3 linked regions of the Homo sapiens genome follow. The protein of the gene in region 1 interacts with the protein of each later gene in a pairwise test. Each region holds a gene or a part of one and is shown on either strand. Other genes may lie near its edges.

Evidence for each region. Proteins that work in one complex are often made in the same cells at the same time.
Region 2: the proteins of SPDYE4 (region 1) and GCK interact in binary tests that used the Homo sapiens proteins (3 or more experiments, as listed by UniProt).
Region 3: the proteins of SPDYE4 (region 1) and PPIL1 interact in binary tests that used the Homo sapiens proteins (3 or more experiments, as listed by UniProt).

The regions. Positions count from the first base shown.
Region 1 is NC_000017.11:8,750,343-8,755,567, reverse strand, and holds the end of SPDYE4 (speedy protein E4), read left to right. Parts: coding exon 1-48; intron 49-2,078; coding exon 2,079-2,247; intron 2,248-2,370; coding exon 2,371-2,430; 3' UTR 2,431-2,474; intron 2,475-3,330; 3' UTR 3,331-4,715; downstream 4,716-5,225.
Region 2 is NC_000007.14:44,179,423-44,186,453, reverse strand, and holds part of GCK (hexokinase-4), read left to right. Parts: intron 1-2,300; exon of another isoform or gene 2,301-2,470; intron 2,471-2,993; exon of another isoform or gene 2,994-3,152; intron 3,153-4,304; exon of another isoform or gene 4,305-5,063; intron 5,064-7,031. UniProt on the Homo sapiens protein: Catalyzes the phosphorylation of hexose, such as D-glucose, D-fructose and D-mannose, to hexose 6-phosphate (D-glucose 6-phosphate, D-fructose 6-phosphate and D-mannose 6-phosphate, respectively).
Region 3 is NC_000006.12:36,864,787-36,871,817, reverse strand, and holds part of PPIL1 (peptidyl-prolyl cis-trans isomerase-like 1), read left to right. Parts: coding exon 1-100; intron 101-7,031. UniProt on the Homo sapiens protein: Involved in pre-mRNA splicing as component of the spliceosome. PPIases accelerate the folding of proteins. Catalyzes the cis-trans isomerization of proline imidic peptide bonds in oligopeptides. Catalyzes prolyl peptide bond isomerization in CDC40/PRP17.

The DNA of each region.
Region 1 (5,225 bases):
CGGCCTCTTCTCGTGGCAATACCAACGCATTCATTTCTTCCTGGCTCTGTGAGTAGTTTGCTTCTTCCCATCTGTCAATATCCAACACCCTGGGACAGTGGACGAAGTGGGATTCCAACCTTCCATCTATTTTTTTACCCTACTTCTCCTCTTTACTCTGTATATAAAAACGATAAGATTATACTATGGTGTTCTTAGTCTGTTCTTTCTAAAAACAAACACAAATGCAGTTGACAAATAGTAGAATCAAACAAAAGGAAACATAAACCCGTCCTAAGGGGAAAGGAAAGCCGTGGACACGACCCTGCTCCCCAAGCAAGCAGCCATTTCTGGTTCTCTCGTCTCTCTCCTTCCCATATCAACACCAAATGCAATTTTCCATCCTCCTTCTCCAGGTTCCCATGACAGAGGCAGAAATTCAGGTCGTCCTCGCATAACACAGATCCATCATCAAATACTCCCTGCTGGGCATTCCTGCGAGTCCTGCCCCAAGCCAGGGGGCTTCCTAGTGCTGCCTGAATAGCTTTCCAAAGCACAGCTCCCACCCCCCCTTCACTGCCCACCTGAACAACCTCCTTAGCTGATTTGTCTCTAAACGGAGGCCCGGGTCCACAGGGCTAATTCAACCCTCTCTGCAGTCCTTCTACCACCAAACCTGCCCACCATCTTCATCTTTCCTTGTTTGCTTTCGCCACTCCTTCCAAATGCCCTCCACTCCATTTTGATTTTGTGTTTTCTGTCTGGGTGTCCTGCACACATGTGGATCTGAAGGGAATGACCCATTCCTTAAAGTCAGTTCAACCCCACAGCCTTTGCAATGCCTCCCCTGATCTTCCAGCTTCTGCACGCCCACAGCACTTTAGTGACATCCTAGGATAATGTGACATTTTGGATTCGTTTATCTGCCCTCCTTTTCCCCAAACCCATCAGAGTAGACCCCTGTTGAAGGCAGGGTCTTGTCAAAATATCAAAGTTTTTTGTTTTTATCTTTACCGGACAGAGACTTGCTCTGTCCCTCAGGCTGGAGTGCAGTAGCCAGATCATAGCTCACCGCAGCCTCCATCTCCTAGGCTCTAGTGAAGCTCCCACCTCAGCCTCCTGAGTAGCTGGGACTACAGGTGCATGCCACCACATCTAGCCAGTTTTTATGATTTTTAGTAGAGATGACGTTTTGCTATGTCACCCAGGCTGTTCTGGAACTCCTGGGTTCTCACCTCAGCCTCTCAGAGTGCTGGTATTATAGACATGAGCCACCCAATCAGCCAAAATATCAAAGTATTCCTGAAACACTCAGCACAATTCTTTTCATTTTGCAAGTGCTCATGTTATATTGACTCTATGGAATAATTCATATGGCATTTGCCTATAAGATAAATCTTTCCTTCTTTCCTTCATTCATTCATGTATTCATTTATTCAACAAAACCTTATGAAGTTCATCATATGTGCCAGGGAATAGGAAGGATGGGAAGGGAGAGTTCACAGCAATGCTTGTTGAATTAATGCACCAAGATAAACAAAGCCCTCTAGTGGCCTTTTGGTAGGTGAGAGATGATTTACAGAAACACACCAGTCAGTTCCTGTCCTTGGGGGCACTTATGATGCACGGGGGAAGACAGGTGTGTGCATACATGACAAGGAAGGGGGGTGTGGGAGGAACAGGGATGGGGACTAGGATGAGGTGACGTCATCTGTCTTGTATAAGGATGGCAGGACACATCCTTAGCATAAGACTTGGGTTGTTTTTAAATTCAGAGGGGGTCTTGCCATATTACCCAGACTGGTCCCTAACTCCTGGCCTCCAGTGATCCTCCTGCCTGGACTCCCAAAGTGCTGGGATTCCAAGCAAGAGCCACCACTCCCAGCTACCACTTGGATCATCTCCTTCCTGAAGGTTTGAGAGGCACCCTTAGCAGGTCTCTGTCCAGCGGGGCCTCCTGAGGAAGGCAGGGCTCTCTGCAGGGCGGCTGTTGGTGCTGAGCTGAGGAAGGTCCCCTGCCCTCCTCTCTGAGAGGCTGCCCTCAGGCAGGGGTCCCTCCTGGTGGGGCCCCTGAGCAGCAACCTGATCTCTCTCCCCAGCTACCTGGCCAGTGACATGGAGGAGGACAACCAGGCCCCGAAACAAGACATCTTCTCCTTCCTCTACGGGAAGAACTACTCCCAGCGACCCTTGTTCCATAAGCTTCGATACCAGCTCCTCTGTTCCATGCGCTGGAGGACGTGGGTTTCCCCAGAGGAGATGGAGGAGGTAGGTGGGGCCATATGAGGAGGTGGGGGTGGGGAGGGATGGGGTGGACTGGAGGCTGGAGGAGGGCAGAGAGGGGGCTTCCTGGGGAATCCCTGGCTTCTCAAGTGGTGTGTGTTTTTCCAGATCCAGGCTTATGACCCAGAGCACTGGGTGTGGGCCCGAGATCGCACCCTCATTTCCTAGAGCTCCGGGGACATGGAGGCCTGAGGTCATCGGCCTGAGGGAAGGTACGTGTGTATCCTCCAGGGTAAAGGCAGAATATTCTCATCTATAAGAAAATCCAAGGAACTCAACTGCTTGATCCAGCTTCAAGCCTGGTCAACATGGCGACACCCCGTCTCCACAAAAATACAAAAATTAGCCGGGCGTCCTGGTGGGCGCCTCTAGTCCCCACTACTCAGGAGCCTGAGGCGGAAGGAACACCAGAGCCCCGGAGGTCGGGGCTGCAGTGAGCTGTGATTCTGCCACTGCACTCCAGCCGGGACGACAGAGTGACACTCTTTCTCAAAAATGAGAATACTACCTAGGTCCAGGGAGGTTCATTATGGTTGATACACTTGAGTTACTGATTTGAGGAAAGGATTCAGTGAAGATTTGGTTGACATCTTGTGCAGCTAACCACATTTAGGACCAAGCATTAGACTAAAACATGAGAGATTAAGGTTGGGGATTAGGAATCTGGTCTGCTGGTTCCTGAGGTTGTCGTGTTAGACATGTTTGTAGCATGGTTAAAAGTTTAGATCTTAAGCAATATAAAGGGCCCCAAGTGTGATGAAGTCCAAAGCCACGTCCTCCAAGGGTGCTCTACTCCCTGGGTGGAGCCACCCAAAGTCCTTGCTATGAAGCAGATCACTGGGGCTAACCTTGGGTATATTAAGTGATTTTTGGAGTCAAGCTCACCAAAGTGTGAGTACCAGAATCAAAAATGATGGTTCAGAATCAGGGTTTACAATAAAGGGTTAGAGATAAAATCAGATTTATATATTGCTCTGAACTCTAGTTAGGATTGATGTGGGATGGGAATAACCTTCCTATCTAGAGATCTCCCTCCTTGAAGTGTGACATCCTCTCTCTCACTTCCAGAACACTGGGCCCAGGGGAGATGGGAATTTTCAGCAGGAAGTTTATCGCGACGCTAATGCCAGACACCAGGAAGGGAGAGAGGAGCCTCCTGTGCAGATCATCTAGAAGAAGCTGGACTCTTCTAGAAGGGGCAAAATAGATTGACCAGGTTTTCCTCCTAGGAGCCATGGAGGTATTTCTAGGAGTCAGTGGAGGGAAAGTGAGAAACCAGGGGTGTTTCTGGTTCCACCCCTTCCTGCGGCAAAACCTCCCTTTTCACGTTGCTGAATCCCAGCCTCCCCTGGGCTGGAAGCTGGAGTTCCTGTTTCCTATGGACTTGGTTGCCACAGTCCAGAGCATTTGAAGGCACAGCGCAGGCACTCAGATTGTTACGGAATTCTTTGTAAAATATGAAATTACTGCCATAGGATTTTAAGAGATAGTTTAATAGATACTGTACATTTTGTTGGTTTATTTTTCAAATGTTGGCCATAGAATTATTACTAGGTTGATTTAAAATAGTTTGGGGTTTTTGTAGTTTTGAAAACATGCTGTTCCTATAGAGTTCTCTGACGGTTGTTATATACACATAAATATAATTTAGTTTTCATTTTTAAGAGAGGATTCTTTTTATCGTAAATGTTTTCTCTTTAAATCGTTTTATCTATTATTAAATGTGCTCCTGAAGCGAGCACTCTTGTAATCTATGATACTGACCTAATATATCCATTATATTTATAGCTAGGTGGTAGTTCCCCTACATTCTTGCAAATAGAAATGTTTATTTTCTGTTTACTGTTTGTTACTGAATTGTGAGAATTCAGTTGTGATTTTTAACATGCCTTCCATATATACTAACATGTCCAATATATACTATACATTTTATTTGTTTATTTTGAAAATGATGGGCATGGCATTATTACTACATTTATTTAACTAGTTTAGAAATACAAGTATTTTTTAAAAGACACTGTTCTTATGAAGTTGTGTGATGGGTGTTACACCTGTTATATACACATAGATATAATTCTGTTTTCATTTTTAAGAGAGGATTCTTTTTATCCTAAATGTTTTATTTTTAAATCTTTTTATCTGTTATTACATGTGCTGCTGAAGGGAGCACTGTTATGACCTAGAGTAGTTACATAATATATCTATTCTATTTATAGCTAGGTGGCATTTCCCCGAAATTCTTGTAAAAATAAATTTTTATTTGATGTTGAGTGTTTGTTTGTTATTGAACTGTGAGAATTCAGACGTAATTTTTTAGCTTGTATTGAAAGGTTTGTATGTTACTTTAAAGAGGACATGTGTTTGAAAGGAGGACAGGAGCTGTGTGTTTCAAAGAGGACAGTGCACTGCGCTACCTGGGAAAATGCAATAAAGATGAAGTTTTCTCATCTTCACAACGACTGTGACCATATTGGTCTGGATTGCTTATTTGTTGTCCAATGACATTTTTGTTTAATGCGGTTTTAGTTATTTGAACAAATCTATTAACCCTGGAAAATAATGCTGAATCTTTTTGTTTGTTTGTTTGTTTGTTTTTGAGATGGAGTCTTGCTCTGTCACCCAGGCTGGAGTGCAGTGGCGCAATCTCAGCTCACTGCAAGCTCCACCTCCTGTGTTCACGCCATTCTCCTGCCTCAGCCTCCCAAGTAGCTGGGACTACAGGCACAGGCCACCATGCTCGGCTAATTTTTTGTATTTTTAGCAGAAACGGGGTTTCACCGTGTTAGTCAGGATGGTCTTGATCTCCCGACCTCGTGAGCCATCCGCCTCGGCCTCCCAAAGTGCTGGGATTACAGGCGTAAGCCACCTCCCCTGGCCCTTTATTTTATTTTATTTTATTTATTTATTTATTTATTTGAGACAAGGATCTTGTCCCATTCCCCAGGCTGAAATGCAGTGGCTCA
Region 2 (7,031 bases), on another chromosome or scaffold:
CTGACTTGCAGACCGCCACCTTCTTGCTGTGTCCTCACATCGTGGAGAGAGAGTGAAAACAAGCTCTCTGGTGTCTCTTCTTATAAGAATGCTAATCCTATGATGGGGGCTCCCCCTCCTTACCTCATCTAAACCTAATTATCTCCCAAAGGTCTCATCTCCAGATACCATCACACTGGGGTTAGGGCTTTGACATATGAATCTGGGGGGACACAATTCAATCTGTAACACCAGGAGGGCATGCCGGGAGGAACTGACCTTCCTCCCTCCAGCTGCCCTGGACACCTTTGCCCCATTGAAGGAGCAGGCTCAGAAGTGGAATGAGGATGGAATAAGGTGCACTCCATCATGCTTACCCACATCCCTGGCAGGAATTGTCCTGGGCCCCAGCAGGAGAGATGCCCCCCCATACTGCCATGGCACCTGCTCTGAGACAGGTGTGCAGAGTGCAAAGCTCCAGGTGGCCCCCAAGCAGGTGTGCTGGGAGGAGGGGCCCGTGTGGGAGGAGCAGGCAGCGCCAAGGCCTAGCGGAGCAGTGACAGGTCCCTGACTTCAGGGAATGGGCACGCTGTGGGCAGGCAGCTGGTGTGGGGGTGAGGGCTGGGGCTGCATCTGTGGGACCAGGGCTGGGCCATCCATCATATGCCGTGTCACAACCCCAGTGCCCCTGCTGTAGCCAGGACAGGAGGCTGGGCCAGGCTGGGAGGTGACAAGAGTGGGGGCTGTCCCCAGGAGAAGCACTCTGCTGCCTGTGCCCAGGCCTCTGGGGATGAGGACCCCTCAGAAGGAGTAGCTATGTCTAGGAAGCCCCAGGGCAGGAGCAAGCCAAAGGGGACATCATTAGTGAGATCCAGGGGATCAGTGGGCCACAGAAGCCCCAGCGTGAGCCCCTCTGACTGATGCAGCTAGGCCCACACCTGCACCTGCCCACAGCAAGACCCCCAGGAGGAGAGGGGACAGATGGAGAGAGGCACAAAGTGCCCCTGGCCTCTGCCTTGAAGCCACCCCAAGGCAAGAGAGATTTGAGCCCCTGTTTAGTGACCTCCAGGGGAACATTCTGGCCCATCTGATGTGGGAAGCCCCTTGTGGAGTCTGTCATTCCTCAGCTGAGCCAGGCCTTTGGAGGCAGCCCAGGCATGTCCCCTGTGTGCTCCTATCCCTGTGTTGGGACACCTGGCCCAGCCCCTCCTTCTGCCTTTCTCTTCCCTTCCCTTCTCAGGAGTGGACACTTCCTCCTTTAGCCCCCTCACAGCTGTGTGAACTTCTCTGTATCTCTCTCTTTCTGTCTCTTTCTCCCCCTCTCTCTCTGTCTCATTGTCTCTCTGTGTGTCTGTCTGTAGTATTCTCTCTCTGTCTCTGTCACTCTGTCTCTCTCTCTCTCTGTGTCTACCTTTCTGTATTTCGCTTTGTTTCTTTTTCTCTGTGTGTGTGTGTGTGTATCTGTTTTTCTCACTCTCTCTCTGTGTCTATCTTTCTGTATTTCGCTTTGTTTCTTTTTCTGTGTGTGTGTGTGTGTATATCTGTTTTTCTCACTCTCTCAATCTCTCTCTCTCTTTCTGTCTCTCTTTTGCTGGCCTGAGCAAAGAGGGAGCCCCATCCTGATGCTACATAACCGTGAACCAGCACAGACAGAATTGTAGGAAAGTCCTGCAAGTAGAAGGATAGAAGGATGAGGGAAGAAACGCCATGTGAGTCATGACAGATCCCTTTCCAGGAGCCACTGACTCACCCTGCCTCCTGCCCTCCCACTGTGACACTATTACTCACAGACAGGCCCGGATTAAACCTATGTTCCAGGTGCCCTGTGGTTCCCACAGTGTGGCTCCCTGGGTCTGGCCTCAGGCTCCACAGGTGCCCAGCCCTGCCAAAGTCTCCAGAGCAGCTGTCCAGCTGGGGAGCTGCGGGGCCCCTTCACAGAGCGCATGGGAAGAAGTTCCATCCTACACATTACATCGAGAGGGACGTGCCTGAGAAGGGGAGCTGGAGCCCGTGCAGCCCCCTGCTTGCGTGCAGAACATAGTGTACCCTGAGCATGCCATGAAAAACACAAACGCACAAAGTTGTAAAGAAAAAAGAAATGACAGGTGGCTGTAAAATCAGTTATAGCCCACGAGAGGCCCACTAATGAGTGGTGATTTCAGCTGATTACAAAGAAATGATGGTGTTTCTGTAATGAACTAAACATGCACTCGTGCGTGCACACACGCGCACGTATAGTCACATAACTGACCAGCCCTATGCATCACTTGTTAATTACTTAGTAACTGTAACAATAATAGTTTCCAATAAGTGAGCCTTAGTCTCTGCGCAAGGGTCAGTTTATTGAGCACACGGGGGCCTTGCAGTGGGGGCAGGTGATCTGCTCCTGGGAGCCGCCAGCCTCTCCTCTCCTGCTCTTCATCTTCCTCCGTGGTGGGAAATTGTCTCACTGCTTCTACACCTGAGGCTGAACATCTCCCTTTATTTCAGTCTGAAACACATGTAAAAATATACTGGAATGAATTAAGGTTGCAATTATTGATATCAGGCAGTGAGTACATCAGGGTTTATTATACTATCTCCTTTACTTACTTCGAAGTTCTCTATTACCAAAAAATTAAAAACTATAAAAGAAAGAAAAAGGAAATGAGGCTAGATTCAACACAGATTACTCTTACCAAACCCTTCGTAGTCCCAGGAGTCCCCTAACACAAGCACTTGTGACCTGGAGTGATATTCACAGCATTCCTTACCTGGCAATACCTGAGTATTAGCCCCCCCAGTGGGATCTTTGTTGTAGACAACCAGCAACTATCAGCCCAGCCAATAAACAAGTAGGAAAGGGGAGTGCTGGAGAGGCCAAGAAGTGGGATTTTCCATGCTCCTGGGCTGTGATCCAGAGGGCACGGCTGTGAGGCTGATCTCAATGAACACTCTGTCTTGGAAGTACAGGGATCCTCTGCTACCTGAAAACGTTCTGAGTATTCACTTTCATGGATTGCAAAGTCATTTACCCAAAATTCACTCTCCAAATGAAAAGTGAGTATGATGAATCAGTATTCAAGTTCCACCTGGGTCCTGGGAGAGGGCATGGACATCATATCCCAGCTGTTCCGACAGGAGGACCCAATCTGAGTCTCACTGCCTGCCTGCATCGTTTGTCTGCTGCCAGCCTGCACAGTAGGAAGGGAAAACATGATTTGTATCTGTTTTAGGTCAGGTTCCCAAGAAGTAGAGCCTGAGATTGGAATTCTTGGAAAATGGTGTTTGCGGGAGCGCTGTCAGCAGAAGCTATAAGGAAGTTGGGGGGACAGAAAACGAGAGGTAAGAAGCCAGTCAAAAAGGCAGGTCCAGCTTAAGTCCGCCTCAGTCTGGTTCCACAAGGGCTCTGATGCATGAAGAATATCACAGGGTTGTCCCTCCTGGGAGAGGGGCCAGCCTATTGTACCTGTATCAAAGCCACCAGCTGAGGGCCAGTGGGGAGGGAAGATCTTCCAGGCATTTCCAGGAAACTCTCAGGAGAAGGGTGTAGCTGTGAGCAGTCTGCAGCTGCTGCTCACTGCGGCTAAAGGCTGGGTGTGCAGGCCAGTCAGCCAGTGAGGTGCCAACAGCAGGCACTACAGTCCACCCCTTGACTGCTCAGACCTACTGCTTTCCACTTTAAGCTCTCTCCATCCAGGCACAGCTTCAGGGAAAACTTACAATTGGAGAAACAGAGGGATGAACTACAATGCCCACTTCTGCATGTGATTGTAAGACTGTCACTGATACTCACCATCATGCCCCATCCCCACCATCCATTCTAGTGTCCCCTTCCCCTTGGCTAACACTGCTGGTCTAGGTGACTTCCCTAGAGCAGGAGCCAAACCCTTATCCCTGAGGCATCTGAATCCTGGATTCCTTTATCAGGCTATTGTTGTTGTAAGTTGTCCATTCCCAATTACAACTGGACATGAGACTACCAAGAAACACCCTGGCAAATCATCTGAGTGCAAGCCATATTCTTCCTGCTCCATTATGTAGCGGTAGTCCTACCTCCTAATGACAAGGGTAAATTGCCACATTTTGCTCCTTGTGCCAGGATGGTAATACCTTTCTCTACCTGCTTGGCTACTGGCACAAGGAAGCACAGCATGACCAGGAGGCAATTGTAGCTGTACATTTAGTGAATGTGTTAATGTATCACCTGGTGGAAGGACCCCCTCTGAGAACCAGGACTTCTAGACCCACAAAACCTAAAGTTGTGAATGGCGGAAGCACAAATTTCCCAAGTGGATCATGGAGAGTGATGAAGAGTTCTTGGTTCCCAAACCCACATATTTTACCTTTCAGGAACATGGCCTCATCCCATAGCCATTAGAGTGCATATTGCATTCTGGAGGAGACTGGGCCCTCCTCATGGGTGTCATCTTCAAGATGACAGCTCCACTGTGCCTCCAAGAGGATGCTCCACCACCCTATCTGTGATTCCTTGGTTAGCAGGACAGGCTGCTGCACTGAGGGTAGGAAAGGCAAGTCCATTGATGGCTGGAATACATGTCAATCCAAGTCAAGAGAAAATGCCGCCCTTTCCAGGTTGGAAGGGGCCCGATTTAGCCAACTTGTCACCCAGTAGTGGCTGGTTGGTCTCCTCCAGGAGCAGTGTTATACCAGGAATTCAGCACCAGTCGCTATTGCTGGCAGTTCTTACATTCAACAGCAGCAAAACTAGGTCAGCCTTGATGAGAGGGAATGTATGCTTCTGGGCACAGGCATGGCTTCCTTCTCTGACTCCATGACTATCTATTTCTGAGTGCATGGTGGCCGACATTCAGCTGCCTGCCCATCCTATCCACTTGGTTATTATTGCCTCTTCCACAAGAAGTGGTTTCTGGCTGTCATTAATGTCTCATACTTTGTGCCCACTCACACAGGTTTAGCTCTACAACTTTTCCCCATGCCACCACTTTTCCACAATCTTCTAATGTTGCTCCTTCCAAGCTACTGAAGAACGAGCTAAGCTATTCACCAATGTCCATGAGTCTATATTTACCTTAGGCCACATCTCTCTCCACACAAAGTGAATAAGCAGGTGCACCCTCCAAAACTCTACTAAGAGGATTTCTTCTCCCCAGTGTCTTTCAGGGCCACCTTGAGTGGGGCTGAAGTACAGCAGAAGTCCATTTCCAGCTTGCATCAACATTCCAAACTAACCTATCCATGATCAATGCATAGATGGGTTTTTCCCTCCTCCAGCAGCTAGACAAAAGACACCCCCCACCAGGAGGCCATATTTGCATGTGGGTGAAAGAGAGGCACAGGGGCCAATATTCGTGCAACAGTGGTAGATGGCAGGTGGGTCTGGGCCACCTGTCCCTGCAGCTTATCTGTGCCATCTGGACCTGCTCAAGCCTGATTCCAGATATACCATTTCCATCTTATGATGGATGGCTTATGACCTAGTGGGTCTGACAGCACCAAACTCATAATGGGCAGTTATGGCCACATGGTCACTTAATGTCCTATGGTCAGACACTCTGCTGAGTGGCATGCCAGGAAATGCTTTACAAGTGGTGTTTGGTTCTCTGCTGCAGATGGCATGACCTTGGTCCGGAGCCCTAGGGGTTTGGACAGTGACTCCTGTTGGGGCCTAATCTCACATTCCATGCAGAGTATCATCAGATTTGCCAATCACATAGCCTAAGGGTCAGGACTGATCCAACCAGTTTTTGCAGAGATCAAACTGGAGAATGAAAGGTTGATATGATGTGACCATCATATCACGTTTTTCTCTCTTGAAAAGTATGCAGATGTCTGAAAGAGACAAGTGCCCCAGGAGAAAATGCATGCCTTCCTCAGGATCGGCCCCCACCTCCCCTCCTGGCCACAAGGAGGGTCAAATCTCAGCATGGCCCAACTTGGACCTGTCAAGGAAGAAGAAAAAAATTGTATGCCAAAGGAACTCAGTCTTTGGCTAACAAGTACTAGACATCCTTTAAGTCTTTGAGAATGGTAATAATTTCTGCCATCCCTCCAGATTTGTGTTTTTCTGTTTTGGCTGGGTGGGAATGCAGCATTTTCACTTTGCCTTTGTTATTACAAATGTTGCTTATTCTATAAATCAAGGAACCATTGTAAGGGCTCTTCTGATGGTTAAGTATATCCATTCCAATGATTTATTCGGGATCCAAGGAAATGATTTCTGGGTGAATACACAGAACTAGTGGATCCAATTTGAGACATACCTGGGCCAGAACTATATTTGTCGTCTTACCCCAATAAGCCTGCACTCTACTAGGACAGCCATGACAGCACTTTGGGACCCTAGATATAAGTGTGAATTGCTGGCTGGGCATGGTGGCTCACGCCTGTAATCCCAGCATTTTGGGAGGCTGAGGCAGGTAGATCACCTGAGGTCAGGAGTTGAAGACCAGCCTGGCCAACACGGTGAAACCCCATCTCTACTAAAAAATACAAAAATTAGCTGGGCGTGGTGGTGGGTGCCTGTAATCCCAGCTACTCGGGAGGCTGAGGCAGGGAGAATTGCTTGAACCCAGGAGGCGGAGGTTGCAGTGAGCCAAAATCACACCACTGCACTCCAGCCTGGGTGACAGAGCGAGATTCCATCTCAAAAAAAGAAAAAAAAAAGTGTGAATTGCTATGAAATCACTATCAAAAGATCTGAGTGTTACCCTTACTCAGTGTGGTCGAATATAAATAGCCATAGGTTCCTGTTATACACACTTGCTGTGGTGCTACAGAGTCTTTCCTCATGGGAACCCAGTCCCTCTTTCAGTCAATGGGTTCTGGTTCGAGAACTGGCTGAGGTTTGGAAACTGTGCCTTTCCATCATAACTTTCCACTGGGGTGACTGACCTTGGCCTTCTGTTCATCCTTTCTAGCCCCTAAGAATCCAACACTCTATTAGCCTTCTCCTTAGACCCCTATAAGCTAATCCCTTCTAGTTGTTAGTCTGACCTTGGTGCCCAATATGATAATTATTCCCACTTTGCTTCTGATATGCTTCTAAGTGCTGCCCCTGGTCTCTGCCCTTAAGTGATCTATCATCCCCA
Region 3 (7,031 bases), on another chromosome or scaffold:
AACTTTGCTGAGTTGGCTCGTCGAGGTTACTACAATGGCACAAAATTCCACAGAATTATCAAAGACTTCATGATCCAAGGAGGTGACCCAACAGGGACAGGTACAGTTAAGCCAACATTAGTTTATGTTTTCTTTTTTTTTTCTCCTTTTCGTCTTTTTTTCTAAAGCCAGCATTAGTTTCTGAAGTCTCTGTCGTAAATAGGTGATAAGGCAGCCAGAGCTCTCTTTTCCACTTACTAAGGTCTGTGTTGGTTGATTCTGGTGACAACGCCTGCCTTCCTCAAACACACATGTGTGGAATTGACCAGAAACCAACCTTTACTCCTAGGCTTGGTAGAGTTTTTCATAACTTACATGTACTGCTCACTAAGAACAAATAATATTTGTCTGAATTATAGTGATGCAAGTAGTCTGATCAATAAGAAGGAAAGACTTTATAATATTTTGAGAATAATAAAATCCTGGGTTCTTTTATCGATTCATTCATTTAACAAATACTGAGTACCTGTTTTGTGTCAGATACTTTTTTAAGCTCTAGGGAGATACCTATAAACAAAGAGACAGAATTATTGCTCTCAATAAAGCAGGAAAAGGGTGTGGGGATGGAATTTTAGTAGAAAAGTCAGGGAACTCCTCTCTGACATTATTGGAGAAGAGATCTGAATGAAGTAAGAAAGTGAACCTTGCAACTGTGGGGAGAACATTTTGGATGGAGGGAAGAGCAAACACAGAGGCCCTGAGGCAGGAACCTGTGCTGGAAATCATAAGATATGATACCTTATAGGGCATGGTAGAGACTGGGTTTTATTCTGAGTAAGATGTGATGTGAGTCATTGGAGAGTTTTGAGCAAAGGAAAGACATGATCTGATCTATGCTTTAAAAGGATCACTCTAGGCTGGGCACGGTGGCTCACGCCTGTAATCCCAGCACTTTGGGAGCCCGAGGCAGTTGGATCATTTGAGGTCAGGAGTTCAAGACCAGCCTGACCAACATGGTGAAACGCTCTGTCTACTAAAATACAAAAATTAGCCGGGCGGGTTGGTGGGCACCTGTAATCTCAGGTTCTTAGTCGGGAGGCTGAGGCAGAAGAATTGCTTGAACCCAGGAGATGGAGGTTGCAGTGAGCCAAGATCGCACCACTGCAGTCCAGCCTGGGTAACAGATTGAGACTCCCTCTCAAATAAATAAATAAATAAAAGGATCACTCTAGCTGCTGTTTAGAGAATAGATGTAGGGGCAAGATGTAAACACTATGTAAATAGTTGTTGTACTGTATTGTTTGGGGAGTAATGACAAGAAAAATAGTTCTATACATGTTCAGTACAGATGCTTCCCCCCAAGATGTTTTCAGTCGCGGTTAGTTGAACCCATGAATGTAGAACCCACATGTAGGGAGGGCCGACTATGCTCATGAGTAAGTAGTTGGATAGGAATATGGGGTTCAGGGAAAGACCTGGTATGGAGGTATTAATTTGGGAGTTACTGGCATTTAGATGGGGTTTATTAGTGAACTGGTGGAACCCTTACTCATTTCAAGGGCCCTTGCTTCTCAGTCTGCTTCTTCTCTGCTAATTTCTGCTCGTTTGCCTTTAAACAAGTTTGGTTTTCTCTATAGCAGAGTCTTTTCTCAGTCTTGTTCTTTTTTGTCATTCTTAATCGTCTCATGATTTATCATCTATGGTCAGAAGCATTCAGGTTTTTGGGTTTTTTTTTTTTTAATGTATATGGATGCATTTCAAAATACAGAATATATAAGAAAGCAGAGAAAAGGGGAAAAATCATTCATAAGCATAGCTCCTAAAGATTTCTAACCATCATTAACTAATCCCTAAATATCCCATCTTTCAGAAAGGAACAGTGTTAACTTTTGGTGCCCATCATGTCTGGTTTAAGGGATGACAGGATAAATGGAAGTAGTTTCAAAAAAATAGGATATATAAGCTATTGTTTTTAAAACAGAACATATTACATTTAATTTCATATATATAGAACAGAATATTTGACTTCCTACAGTGAAAGATGAGGCAATTAGTACTTAAATTTCTACCCATTCTTATTTTTCCCCGACCTTAATTTTTGTTGTTAGTTTTATTATTATCTGTTCTGCACTCATCATTCCTTCAGCTACAGTGTGGGTCCTACGTTTCAGTGTATTTAGTGTTCACAACTTGCTTCGCTTTTACCTTCGCAAGTGCTGGAGGGCAGGATTTCTTGTCTAGTGGTTTTTTAGTGTTTTTTTTTCAGAATGCTCAAGAATCACAATTGTCCAGTGGTTTTTTGTTACAAGAGCTGGAATGTGTTGTATTTTTAAGTTCATTCATGTTTCAGAATTTCTGCCTGTTACTTTTATACTTGAAAAGAGATAGCATGTTGGCATGCTCAGCCCCCTCACTGTGTGATGCACTGTGCCACTTTGGGACTTCACAGAGTCCCCACCAGCAAGAAGGCTCTCACCAAATGTGGCCACTTGACCTTGGACTTCTCAGCCTCCACAACTGTAAGAGATAAATTACTTTTTTAAAATAAATTTTTTAGGCCAGGCATGGTGGCTCACACCTGTAAGCCTAGCACTTTGGAGGCTGAGGCGGGAGGGTCACTTGAGTTCAGGAGTTCAAGACCAGCCTGGGCGACATAGTGAGACCCCGTCTCTACAAAAAATAAAAAATTAGCTGGGCATGGTCGCATATGCCTGTAATCCCAGCTACTGGGAGGCTGAGGTAGGAGGATCACTTGAACCTGGGAGGTTGAGACTGCAGTGAGCCATGATTGTGCCCACTGCACTCCAGCCTGAGCGACACAGTGAGACACTATCTCTAAATAAATAAATTAAAATAAAATAAAAATATTTAAAAGGAAGAAAAAAAGACCATAACTGGGTATAGCATTCTGAGATCTTTTTAGACATTTCTGATCAATTGCCTTCTGGTTTGGTTTTTTGTTGTTGTTTGTTTTTGTTGTTGTTGTTGTTGTTTTTGGAGACAGGATCTTGCTCTGTCACCTAGGCCCAGGCTCGAGTACAGTGATACAATCATGGCTCACTGCAATCTCCATCCCCTGGGCTCAAGCATTTCTCCTACCTCAGCCTCCCGAGTAGCTGAGACTACAGGCATTCACCAGCATGCCTCACTAATTTTTAAATTTTTTATAGAGTTGAGGTCTCACTGTTGCTGAGGCCGGTCTCAAACTCCTGGGCCTAAGTGATCCTCCTGCCTCGGCCTTCCAAAATGTTGGGATTACAGGCATGAGCCATCATGCCTGGCTGCCTTCTCATTTTTGAATATGGTTTTGGAGAATACTGAGGCCAGATTTACTCCTTCCTTTACATCAGGGTTAATTTTTTGATTTCTATTTCTGAATATTTTCTCTGTTATACTTACTGGATTTTCTATTTCAGGAAATATAGTTATTTGTTTCATCACCTTTGCCTTCCATATCTATCATATTTCTTTTGATTGTGTGATAGGATTTTTTTTTCTTTTTTCCCTGCATTCACTAAAATAATCTCAGACCTTTACTCTGTGCCTTACTCAATTTTCAGTCATTTTTATTCTGTTCTTTACTGCTCTAATTTATCTACTAGCTCATTACTGATGCCATTTGAATCTAAATTTGTTTCCTTCACTCTGCAATCTTTTCATCTTATTCTGTGGTGTATTATCTTGTCTTTGAGCTTTTGTTATATTATATTTTTACTTCTCTTGAATCATCCATAGCTTGAGATAGCCATGGAGAAGCCACTTTCTCCCAGGCTGAGTTCCTGGGTTTTCTTTTCCTTTCTCCCCTCCTCCTTTCTGTCCTTCTGTTGGTTGTGGTATGTTTGCCTAGTTTCCATGCCATTTGTTTTCATCTTATCCATGCTTGATGTCAACACCTACATTATCCCCACCTTTTACTTGCTCAGATACAGTGTAAGTGGAGTCTCCTTGTCATTCTCCCCACTTATGTGGAACTGGTTGTCTTCCCCACTTCAAATGTTAGGTTGCTTTCTCTCTATTCTATTCTAGCCTGAAGAGGTGTGGGAGAGAACTGGAGCTCAGCTCATGCTGAGCGAGCCCCTTGTGGGAGGGCTAGCCTCTGTTCTATCTTCCCAGACTCCCTTAAAGTCTTGTCCCAGAGCCCCCTCCACCAGCCAGTGGTGTCCCTCTGTCACCACTCCAGGCTCTGGGTAGTCCCCAAGTATGGCCCAGCACCCTGGAAGGTGGCCAGCCCTGCGTGCCTGCCCTGCCACTCCCGAGCCCCTGTGATATGTGTGGGCTTCTGCCCTCAAGGGCTTTGTTTTCAGAGCTGCTCACCCACTCCCCTGTTGGCTGTTCAGAATCGGAGGGTATTTGTGAGAATCTCAGCATGACATTTCTTTCCTGGTTACTGGTTTCAGGGAATACAGATGGAAGAATTTTCTATTTTTTCCTCTTGGCTGACTCTTTTTACAATTTTAGCATGTTTGGTTCCCTTTTCTTATTTGGTTGATGCTGGTGAACTTTTGACTTTTTAATTTTTAATTTTTGTATGTTCACTTTATTGGGTGTTGGGAGCATGTGGTAAACGTGCCTGATAGCAATAACTGAAACATACCCTTAGAATGACCCTGTATGGCAGACGCATCTGAATGTGTGTTCTGAGCTAGGGAATCCAGGAGTAGCCAACCTGGAGGTTCCTTCCTTGTCTATAAAGGGACATCTGAGCCCCTGGCTCGTCCTGTGAAACATGGGCCGCACACGGGTTGAGGCCCCGAGTTTTGAGTTGAATGAAGATTGCCAGGTGGAGATTGTTAGGGAGAAGGTGCTAAGTGGAAATGCTATATAAACTGCATGCTTTTTGCAAGCCATTGTGGTTCTCCGCCACCATTGGACTCTCTGCCCTGTATGTAAGTCCCCAATAAAACCCCATGTCTCATTTGCTGGCATTAGGTCTCTTCGGTCTATTGAACCTGATGCCATCCCCATTGGAGTCAATAGAGGTTCGGCACAACAGGGAGGCAGAGTCTAGTCCTGCTTCATTCTACTTTCTTTGTCTGAAAGGGTTCCGTCGGTACTTCGATGTACTTCTTTCCTGTCTTCTTCCTCTCTCCCCCTCATGTTGTTATGAAATAAATTTTAATTCTTAATACCAGTGAACTGAGAGTCCATGATTAGGGTACAAGTATTGGAAGTGACTCAGGTGTGAGTTGCTCATGCCACAGCTTTTCTGTATTTCTGTAGTTGGTTCATGATCCTTCATAATGTCACATTTCCATGGTGTAATTTTAATGAAATTGAATCACTCAAAAGATCTTCAAATAACTGCACCCAGCCTCAAGTATAATGAATGACTGAGCAGCCCACTGGCAGGTCTATGGTGGAAGGCAAGCAGGAGTTAGGCTCTCCTGGGTCACTAGTTCATATTTTCTAGCTGATTAGGTGACACGTTTTTTGTTAAACATCTCAGATGGGCAGCAAATGACATCCTGGGCTCTTCAGCAAGTTGATGTACCACTTCCATTCCCAGCTGTCCCTCAGTCTGACTACTGTGGAACCATTCTTTCCACATGCTTTCTTGTAATACATCTTTGCCAGATGCCTTGTCAATTCAAATACCCTTTGACTTCCTGCTTCATTTCATTTTAAACCATTTTTCTACCTTCAACTTTCCCATATTATAATAACTATAGAGGCTCTTTCCTTAGCCCTCTGAGTGTCTTTTATTTGTTTCTACTAACCTTTCTGTCCTCTCTGTAAGACATAACATCCTGTCAAGTTCTTCCTTTAGCTCTTCCTGCTCTGCACTTGGCCTCACAGTGCTCACCAGCTGCTGTGATTAATTATATGCTGATTATCCTGTGCGTCACTCTCACTTTGATTTCATCTCTCCTCTTGGTAGCCCCAGGAACACCTGAAATGTAACGTGTTGAACAGCAAGCTCTGTTAATTTTATTCATTTGATGAGTATTTGCCAAGAGTCTGCTGGGTATCCTGTGCTATTCTAAGGCCTGGGAGAAGCACTTAAGCATTAAAAGCCAAGGCATTTTCTTTTTCCTTGCAGTTCCCTGCCCTGCCAGGAAACAAACTATTCATTATAAGAAACAACTAGAATGGGATAATATAAATATGCAAATGTATGATAGTACGGTGTGGATTATGTATATAATATAGGTTGGAGTAATTCACAATAAGGGAAAAAGCACAATGGAATGAGATTAGGATGGGAAGGAGGCATATGCGAGATGGGTCTTGGGAAGTAGAGGGAAGGGCATTTTGAATTTAGGAAGAAGGGTGGGTACAGGGCAGGAGTGACAGAGGCATGCAGGGGTAGGGAGGGAGCCCGCCACCCCCGGTGTCACATCTTCCACTCTAGACTGGCTCTTGTGACATCACCCAGCCACCTCTCCACACCCAGAACAAATGCATCAAATGTGATTCAAAGGCCCCTGTAAAATTTACAGATCTCGGAACTGCCTGTTTAGGGGACAGTAAGGAGCAGTTTGGGGCCAGTTAATGGAGACTCCTAGACAGAGGAGTTCAGATTTGATTGAGCATGACTCAGGGACCATTTGGGACTCTTGAGTCTGGGATAAGACAAATCTGAGGAAATTTCATCCAGCTGTGGACTATGGCAAGACAGTTTGGTTCAGGGTAGAGCAGGACTGTGGAGCTTGGGCTTGCCTTGTGCTTCACATGAATACTTACTAAATGTAGAGGAGTTGCCTTACCCTGCTGAGCCAGCTCACCTGTCGGGAGTGTGGTTACGTGCACCTCCTAGGCTGGTTGTGAGTAGTAAATGAGCTGATGTTGGTACAGTGGTTAGCATGGGCTTGACACAAAGTGGGAGCTCAAACAAATGTGACTGGTTTTTTTTTTTTATTGTTAATTCATTTAACAAATACCTATTAGACTCCTTCTGTAGGCCAGGCACTCTTCTAAAAGCTGGAGATACAACAGTGAATAAGAAAGCCCTCGCGGTGCTCTCATTCTGGTGAGAGACGGAGAATGAAAAAGTACATAATATACTCTCAGGGATGGCAGATGATATGGAAAAAAGAATGTACTGCTGGGAT